Linked DNA regions of Homo sapiens. The protein of the gene in region 1 purifies or fractionates together with the protein of each later gene. This does not show direct contact. Each region holds a gene or a part of one and is shown in the gene's direction. Other genes may lie near its edges. The genes, in order: PCDH9 and SLC35F2.

Region 1 (3,821 bases):
GACTCTTTGCTTTAAATAATACTACTGGGCTGATTACAGTTCAGAGGTCCTTAGATAGAGAGGAGACAGCCATTCACAAAGTGACAGTGCTGGCTAGTGACGGCAGCTCCACTCCTGCTCGAGCAACGGTTACCATCAATGTCACCGATGTAAATGATAACCCTCCTAATATAGACCTCAGGTACATTATAAGTCCCATCAATGGCACCGTGTATTTATCTGAGAAAGATCCTGTCAATACAAAGATTGCCCTAATTACAGTTTCAGATAAGGACACAGATGTGAATGGCAAAGTGATCTGTTTTATTGAAAGAGAGGTCCCATTTCATTTGAAGGCGGTATATGACAACCAATATTTGTTAGAGACCTCTTCTTTGTTGGACTATGAGGGCACCAAAGAATTCAGCTTTAAAATTGTTGCCTCTGATTCTGGGAAGCCCAGTTTAAATCAGACTGCCCTGGTAAGGGTTAAGCTTGAGGATGAAAATGACAACCCACCAATTTTCAACCAGCCTGTAATTGAGCTGTCAGTTTCTGAAAACAACCGACGTGGGTTATACTTAACAACTATTAGTGCCACAGATGAAGACAGTGGGAAAAATGCAGACATTGTTTATCAGCTTGGACCGAATGCCTCCTTCTTTGATCTGGACCGAAAAACAGGAGTTTTGACAGCCTCCAGAGTATTTGACAGAGAAGAACAAGAACGATTCATTTTTACAGTAACTGCCAGGGACAATGGGACCCCTCCCCTCCAAAGCCAAGCGGCTGTGATTGTTACTGTTCTGGATGAGAATGACAATAGCCCCAAGTTTACTCATAATCATTTTCAATTTTTTGTGTCTGAGAATCTGCCAAAGTATAGTACTGTGGGGGTAATCACAGTGACAGATGCAGATGCTGGAGAGAATAAAGCTGTGACTCTTTCCATTCTAAATGACAATGATAATTTTGTGTTGGATCCCTATTCTGGAGTCATAAAGTCAAATGTCTCATTTGATAGAGAGCAGCAGAGTTCCTACACTTTTGATGTCAAAGCCACTGATGGAGGACAACCACCTCGTTCCTCTACTGCAAAAGTAACTATCAACGTCATGGATGTCAATGACAACAGCCCAGTTGTCATTTCTCCACCGTCTAATACTTCCTTTAAGTTGGTGCCCCTCTCAGCCATTCCTGGCTCCGTGGTAGCAGAAGTTTTTGCAGTGGATGTTGACACTGGAATGAACGCTGAACTAAAGTATACTATAGTGAGTGGAAACAATAAAGGCTTATTCCGGATTGATCCAGTAACAGGTAACATTACTCTGGAAGAAAAACCAGCACCTACTGATGTGGGATTGCATCGTTTGGTGGTCAACATAAGTGACCTGGGGTACCCTAAGTCTTTGCACACGCTTGTGCTTGTATTCCTTTATGTTAACGACACTGCTGGAAATGCCTCCTATATCTATGACTTGATCCGCAGGACTATGGAGACCCCGTTGGACAGGAACATAGGGGATAGTAGCCAACCCTATCAAAATGAGGACTATCTAACCATCATGATTGCCATCATCGCCGGTGCCATGGTGGTCATTGTTGTGATCTTCGTCACCGTTCTGGTGCGCTGTCGCCATGCATCAAGGTTCAAAGCAGCTCAGAGGAGCAAGCAAGGTGCCGAATGGATGTCCCCAAACCAGGAGAACAAGCAAAACAAGAAAAAGAAAAGAAAGAAAAGGAAGTCTCCCAAAAGCTCTCTTTTGAACTTTGTTACTATCGAAGAGTCCAAACCCGATGATGCAGTTCATGAACCTATCAATGGGACAATAAGCCTGCCGGCTGAACTGGAGGAGCAAAGTATAGGAAGATTTGACTGGGGCCCGGCACCTCCAACAACATTCAAGCCTAACAGTCCTGACCTGGCCAAGCACTACAAATCTGCTTCTCCACAGCCTGCTTTTCATCTCAAACCAGACACTCCAGTTTCCGTGAAAAAGCACCACGTGATTCAGGAACTCCCTTTGGACAACACCTTTGTTGGGGGTTGTGACACCCTTTCTAAACGCTCTTCCACTAGTTCAGATCACTTCAGTGCCTCAGAGTGCAGTTCCCAAGGAGGCTTCAAGACAAAGGGCCCCTTACACACCAGACAGGTAAACGAGCACTTTTACTGGTCTATAAGTACTGCATACAAGTGCCCAGTCAACCAGTATTAACGTGCCAGTATGTCTATTGTTTTGGTCTAACTTTAGCTTAGTTAGAAAGAGGTAAAAAAAAACTTGACCCCTTTTCTATTCCTCTGGGGCTCAGTCAAGAATTTTTAGAACAGCTTTGAAATTTCTGAGTTCTGAGAATATTTTCTCCTTTCAGTTTCCTTCAAATGGCAAAAGATGAAAAGAGAAAATTATTCCAAAATGTCCCAAGATAATGTTTGCTGAAGAAGAAAAAACCTGTCCTGATATGCCAAATTCTGCTCCTGGGGGTTTCCAAATTGACTGCTTCAAGACTTTCACCTTACCTTTTGATCTAAAAAGTCACCTTCAAATCTCAAGTTTTCAATGACTTTTGAAGGTGTGACTGCAATTATGTTGCAGCTATGGTTGCTAAAGGGGTTAATTTTTTTTTTAGTCTCTAAACAGGATAGTAGAATATTAAATGTACATCAGCTGTGAAGCACATGATCGTTGATAGATTGCAACTAAGCCATATAGGAAGTCTTCTCTTTGATTTCAAATTATTTTATTGTAATATATTAAATTCGGTACTTAATAGAAAGATTTTTAGTGTCCGCAGTGGCCAAATACTCTTTCAAAAAAAAAAAAAAAAAGAATGCTTGCTGCCTAATATAACTGATTTAAAAAGAAAAGAATGAATCCATTGTAAATATTCTCTCATCTTAGTAATGCATAAGTGATCTGTCATAACTCATTTTAAACTGTGAAATATGCCATATGAAGAGGGATTAAGAGGCTGAGAAACTCATATTTCAACCAAATCCAGAATTAGTTTTTCTTAGGTCTAATAATTCCTTGTTAATAAAGATTTAAATGCAGCGCTGTCTAATTTATTTCACTGGTGCTTGTCTGTTGCCACAAAATTTGAATATCGATAATAGCCTGTAGATGGCACTAGGGTATCATGTCGCTTGTGCTGGCCAGGTGCCAATCCCGCAGTAGCAAGGAGAAGGGGGAGGGAAGGATCAAGCTGGTAGTACAGCCAAAGATACCTTTTATTTAATGATAGTTGCTCTGGAGCAACTAGCATTTAAGTTCATTCGCTTGCTCTTTTGTGATTAGCTCTCAGCACACCAACTTTCTAGGATTTCGTAATGCTAGTTCTGTCTTTGTCGATATGGAGTTCACCTATGGTGATGGCCCATCTGTACTTGTTTATAAATAAGGAACACATAGATTTTAGAAAATCAAGTAAAGCAAAATTAGTTTGCAGAACAGTATCAACAGTTATCATTGATTAGTCTTTGGAGAATCAAGAGTTTTTATTTTCTGAGGGTGGGGTGAAGTAGGATGTTTTATTGAAACAGTTTCCCCCTTACCAACTATCATTTATTGCTCTGGAAGGACTTAAGGCTTCATGGTAATAAAATATTTATAAGAGTAATTTTGACAATGAGTCATACAGATACTCCCAGAACATCAAGTATAATACATATTACCATACAACTAAAATCTCCATTCTTAAAGTAAAATATTAAACAGTAGAGCGTTTTAAAAGTACAAATATTTACAGCTTAAATACACAGGAAGAAAGGACTTTAATCAGTATAGAATTTTAAAGGAGACTATGAGATTATTACATATAAGTCAAAGTTAGAACGACTT
Region 2 (3,821 bases), on another chromosome or scaffold:
AGTAGCACAATCTCAGCTGACTGCAACCTCTGCCTCCCAGGTTCAAGTGATTCTCCTGCCTCAGCCTCCCGAGTAGCTGGGACTACAGGTGCCTGTCACCACACCCAGCTAATTTTTTGTATTTTTAGTAGAGACGGGGTTTCACCATGTTGGCCAGGCTGATCTCAAACTCCTCACCTCGTGATTCGCCTGCCTCGGCCTCCCAAAGTGTTGGGATTACAGGCGTGAGCCACTGTGCCCAGCCAATATTGTGTTTTTAGCAGAGATGAGGTTTCACCATGTTGGCTGAGCTGGTCTTGAACTCCTGGCCTCAAGTGATCCACCTCCCTTGGCCTCCCAAAGTGCTGGGATTACAGGCCTGAGCCACCACGCCTGGCCAACACCCACACTCCTTGTTATTGTCTAGCAACAGGTCTGGGATACACCTGTGCTTTCTCCTTTCATTTTGGTTTCCGCCTTCCACAGGGTAAAGTCCTAGACATTTTTGAAGGAGTCATTTAGTTGTGCTTAACTGTGCAGACTTTATCCAATCAACAGACATCTATTGAGCTCTCACTGTGTATGCAGCATAAATCCCAAGCTGGTATGTATCCCTGCTGAAGGGTATTGTTTATAGTGTTATTTAAACAAAGATGTAAAGTTAGGGATCTTTTGTGGCTTGTGCAGTTCCCTGGGGAATTGGGGAACTCTGGATTCTACGAGTCTCCATAAATTCTTCTCCCTTCCCCCTTTTTACTATGAAATTATTTACTATCTGCCCATTCTACTAGACTCCAGGAGTCAGGAATCATATCTAGTTATGGCCATTGTATATTCTGATTGTTACATTACTGACCTTGCAATAGATTCACAAAAAATATGGGATGCATGGCTGAGAATGAATCCTTAATTCCAATAGGCATTGTATAAAGGATTACATCCCTTTTTTTTAGAAAAAATTTCCACTCTGCATTATATGTTTGTGACCCAGTCATGTTGTTTTTTTCATCTAGTGTGTTTCTCAACCTCAGCCTTTTTTTTTTTTAATTTATTTTTATTTTTATTTTTTTTGAGACGGAGTTTCTCTCTTGTCACCCAGGCTGGAGTGGAATGGCGCAATCTCCAGTCACTGCAACCTCCGTCTCCGGGGTTCAAGCCATTCTCTAGCCTCAGCCTCCCAAGTAGCTGGGATTATAGGCGCCTGCCACCATGCCTGGCTAATTTTTGTATTTTTAGTAAAGACAGGGTTTCTTTCTTTCTTTTTTTTTTTTTGAGACAGCATCTCACTCTGTTGCCCCGGCTAGAGTACAGTGGTGCGATCTCAGCTCACTGCAACCTCCGCCTCCCGGGTTCAAGAGATTCTCCTGCTTCAGCCTCCTGAGTAGCTGGGACTACAGGCACGTGCCACCACTCCCGGCTAATTTTTGTATTTATAGTAGAGATGGGGTTTCACCATATTGGCCAGGCTGGTCTCGAACTCCTGACCTTGTGATCCGCCCACCTTAGCCTCCCAAAGTGCTGGGATTACAGGCGTGAGCCACCGCGCCCAGCTAAAGACAGGGTTTCACCATGTTGGCCAGGCTAGTCGCGAATTCCCAACCTCAGGTGATCCACCCATCTCAACCTCCCAAAGTGCTGGGATTACAGGTGTGAGACACTGTGCCCAATCAACCTCAGCCTTCTTGACATTTTGAGTTGACTAATTCTTTTTTTTTTTTTTGGAGACGGAGTCTCATTCCAGGCTGGAGTGCAGTGGCATGATTTTGGGTCACTGCAGCCTCCCCCTCTTGGTTCAAACGAATCTCTTGCCTCAGCCTCCCGAGTAGCTGGGATTACAGGCACCTGCCACCACGTTCGGCTAATTTTTGTATCTTTAGTAGAGATGGGATTTCACCATGTTGGCCAGGCTGGTCTCGAACTCCTGGCCTCAAGTGATCCACCTGCCTCGGCCTCCCAATGTGCTGGGCTTATAGAAGTGAGCCACCGTGCCCGGCCTTGAGTTGACTATTTGTTGGGGCTGTTCTGTAAGATGTAGATACCTGGCCCCACCCAATAAATGCCAGTATAGCACCCTCACCCCCACTCCCAGTTGTGATATTCAAAAGTGTCTCCAGACATTGCCAAATGTCTTCTCGGGGACAAAAATCATCCCTAATTGAGAACCACTGATTTAGTCTATTGTTTTTACCTGCTACAGAGTATTCTGTGGTTCCGTGGTCCATCCACCAGTGTTAGACAACCAGACAGCTTCCAACTCCCAGCCTCCACAAACATCACTGTGATGACCACTCTCATACATGTCCCCTATGTGCTGAAGAACGAGATGATAGCCAGGCTTGGGTCTGAGTCCCTCTAGGTAGAGGGGAGGGGATGCACCCCAGGATGGAGCAATCTTGGGCACTACAGAATCACCCTTGATTTCTGTTGTTCAGTGACTGTCCATTAAGCTATTCCTATCAGCTGCTCTGAAAGAAGGAGGAGGCAGTCTCTCTAGGTTACAGCCCATTAGCCCAAGGAGCTTGGAGAGGGTAGGTGAGGAATGATTGCTGGCTGGACAGCCTGAACCTGTTTTATTAATTTCTCAACACTGGAGGGAGTTGTTAAAGGGGCAGACATGTACTGTAGGGAGAGGTAAGACTGGAATTGAAAAGCTTTTCTCCAGCATGCCCTCCACTGGGCCTCTGGTTCCTCTTTCTGCCCCAGGCTGTAGTCTCCTTCTTCCCCTAGACCAGTTCTAGACAACCTTTGGGTTATTCCTTCTTTTGTTTGCTTCTTTCTTCTGGTTGACTTGAAGGAAGTCAGTGCTTATTCCCTGTCTTGACAGCGCTTCCAGAATAGTCCTAGAGTCCACCTCCCCCTTCAATCCCTATTGTCTTTTTTTTTTTTTTTTTTTCCCAAAACGGAGTCTTGCTCTGTCGCCCAGGCTGGAGTGCAGTGGCGCAATCTCAGCTCACTGCAACTTTCGCCTCCCAGGTTCAAGCGATTCTCCTGCCTCAGCCTCCTGAGTAGCTGGAATTACAGGTGCCTGCCACCAAGCCTGGCTAGTTTTTGCATTTTTAGTAGAGACGGGGTTTCACCATGTTGGCCAGGCTGGTCTCAAACTCCTGACTTCAGGTGATCTGCCCACCTCGGCCTCCCAAAGTGCTGGGATTACAGACGTGAGCCACCGCACCTGGCCTCAATCCCTATTGTGACTAATTCAGTTCAAGCCTTTATCATCTCTCACTTAGACTGTTGTAATAGCTTCCATCCATGCCTCCATCTATCCCCGACCCCAATCATCTCGCTACACAGAAGTCAGAGTGATGCCTAATAAAACGAAAGAGTATTAATGGCTGTCATCAAATGAGAATTCGCTGTGTATCAGGCACCCTACTTATATTTCATCAATCCTCATGACAATCCTACAAAAATAGGTTTTTTATTCTGTTTTGACAGACAGAGCAGGTAAGTAACTTACCCAGGACACTTGGCTGGTGAGAGGCAGAGCTGAGATAGTTTCATTTGTTTCTAAAATCCAGAGCTGCTTTACTCTTTCAAAAATCTCATGTGATATGACTAGTTTACTCAAAAAAATTAAAAGAAAAAAAGAAAGAAATCTCACTGCATTATGCTCAGGCTGAAAACCTTTTGGGATTCTTCCCATCACCTACCCTAGTGGTTTGCAAACCGGAGGAGCTCTTGGGGTTCCCTGGAGGTTCCTTAGGGTTCACCATGGGAAACAAGTAGGGGATAGGAGCTGGTGGGCTTCTGGGCTGGCCTCTGGCACCCACCAGGGTGTGCTGCTATTGATCGTTTTATAGTTGGGCTTTTATGCCAGATTAATAACAATAATACTGTAC

The links.
Region 2: the proteins of PCDH9 (region 1) and SLC35F2 purify together in Homo sapiens (affinity purification with mass spectrometry; one large-scale study listed by BioGRID and IntAct). This does not show direct contact.

What each region holds. Positions count from the first base shown.
Region 1 is NC_000013.11:67,223,719-67,227,539, reverse strand, and holds part of PCDH9 (protocadherin-9 isoform 1 precursor), read left to right. Parts: coding exon 1-2,135; coding exon of another isoform or gene 2,136-2,198; exon of another isoform or gene 2,199-2,352; coding exon of another isoform or gene 2,353-2,376; exon of another isoform or gene 2,377-3,821.
Region 2 is NC_000011.10:107,848,693-107,852,513, reverse strand, and holds part of SLC35F2 (solute carrier family 35 member F2), read left to right. Parts: intron 1-3,821.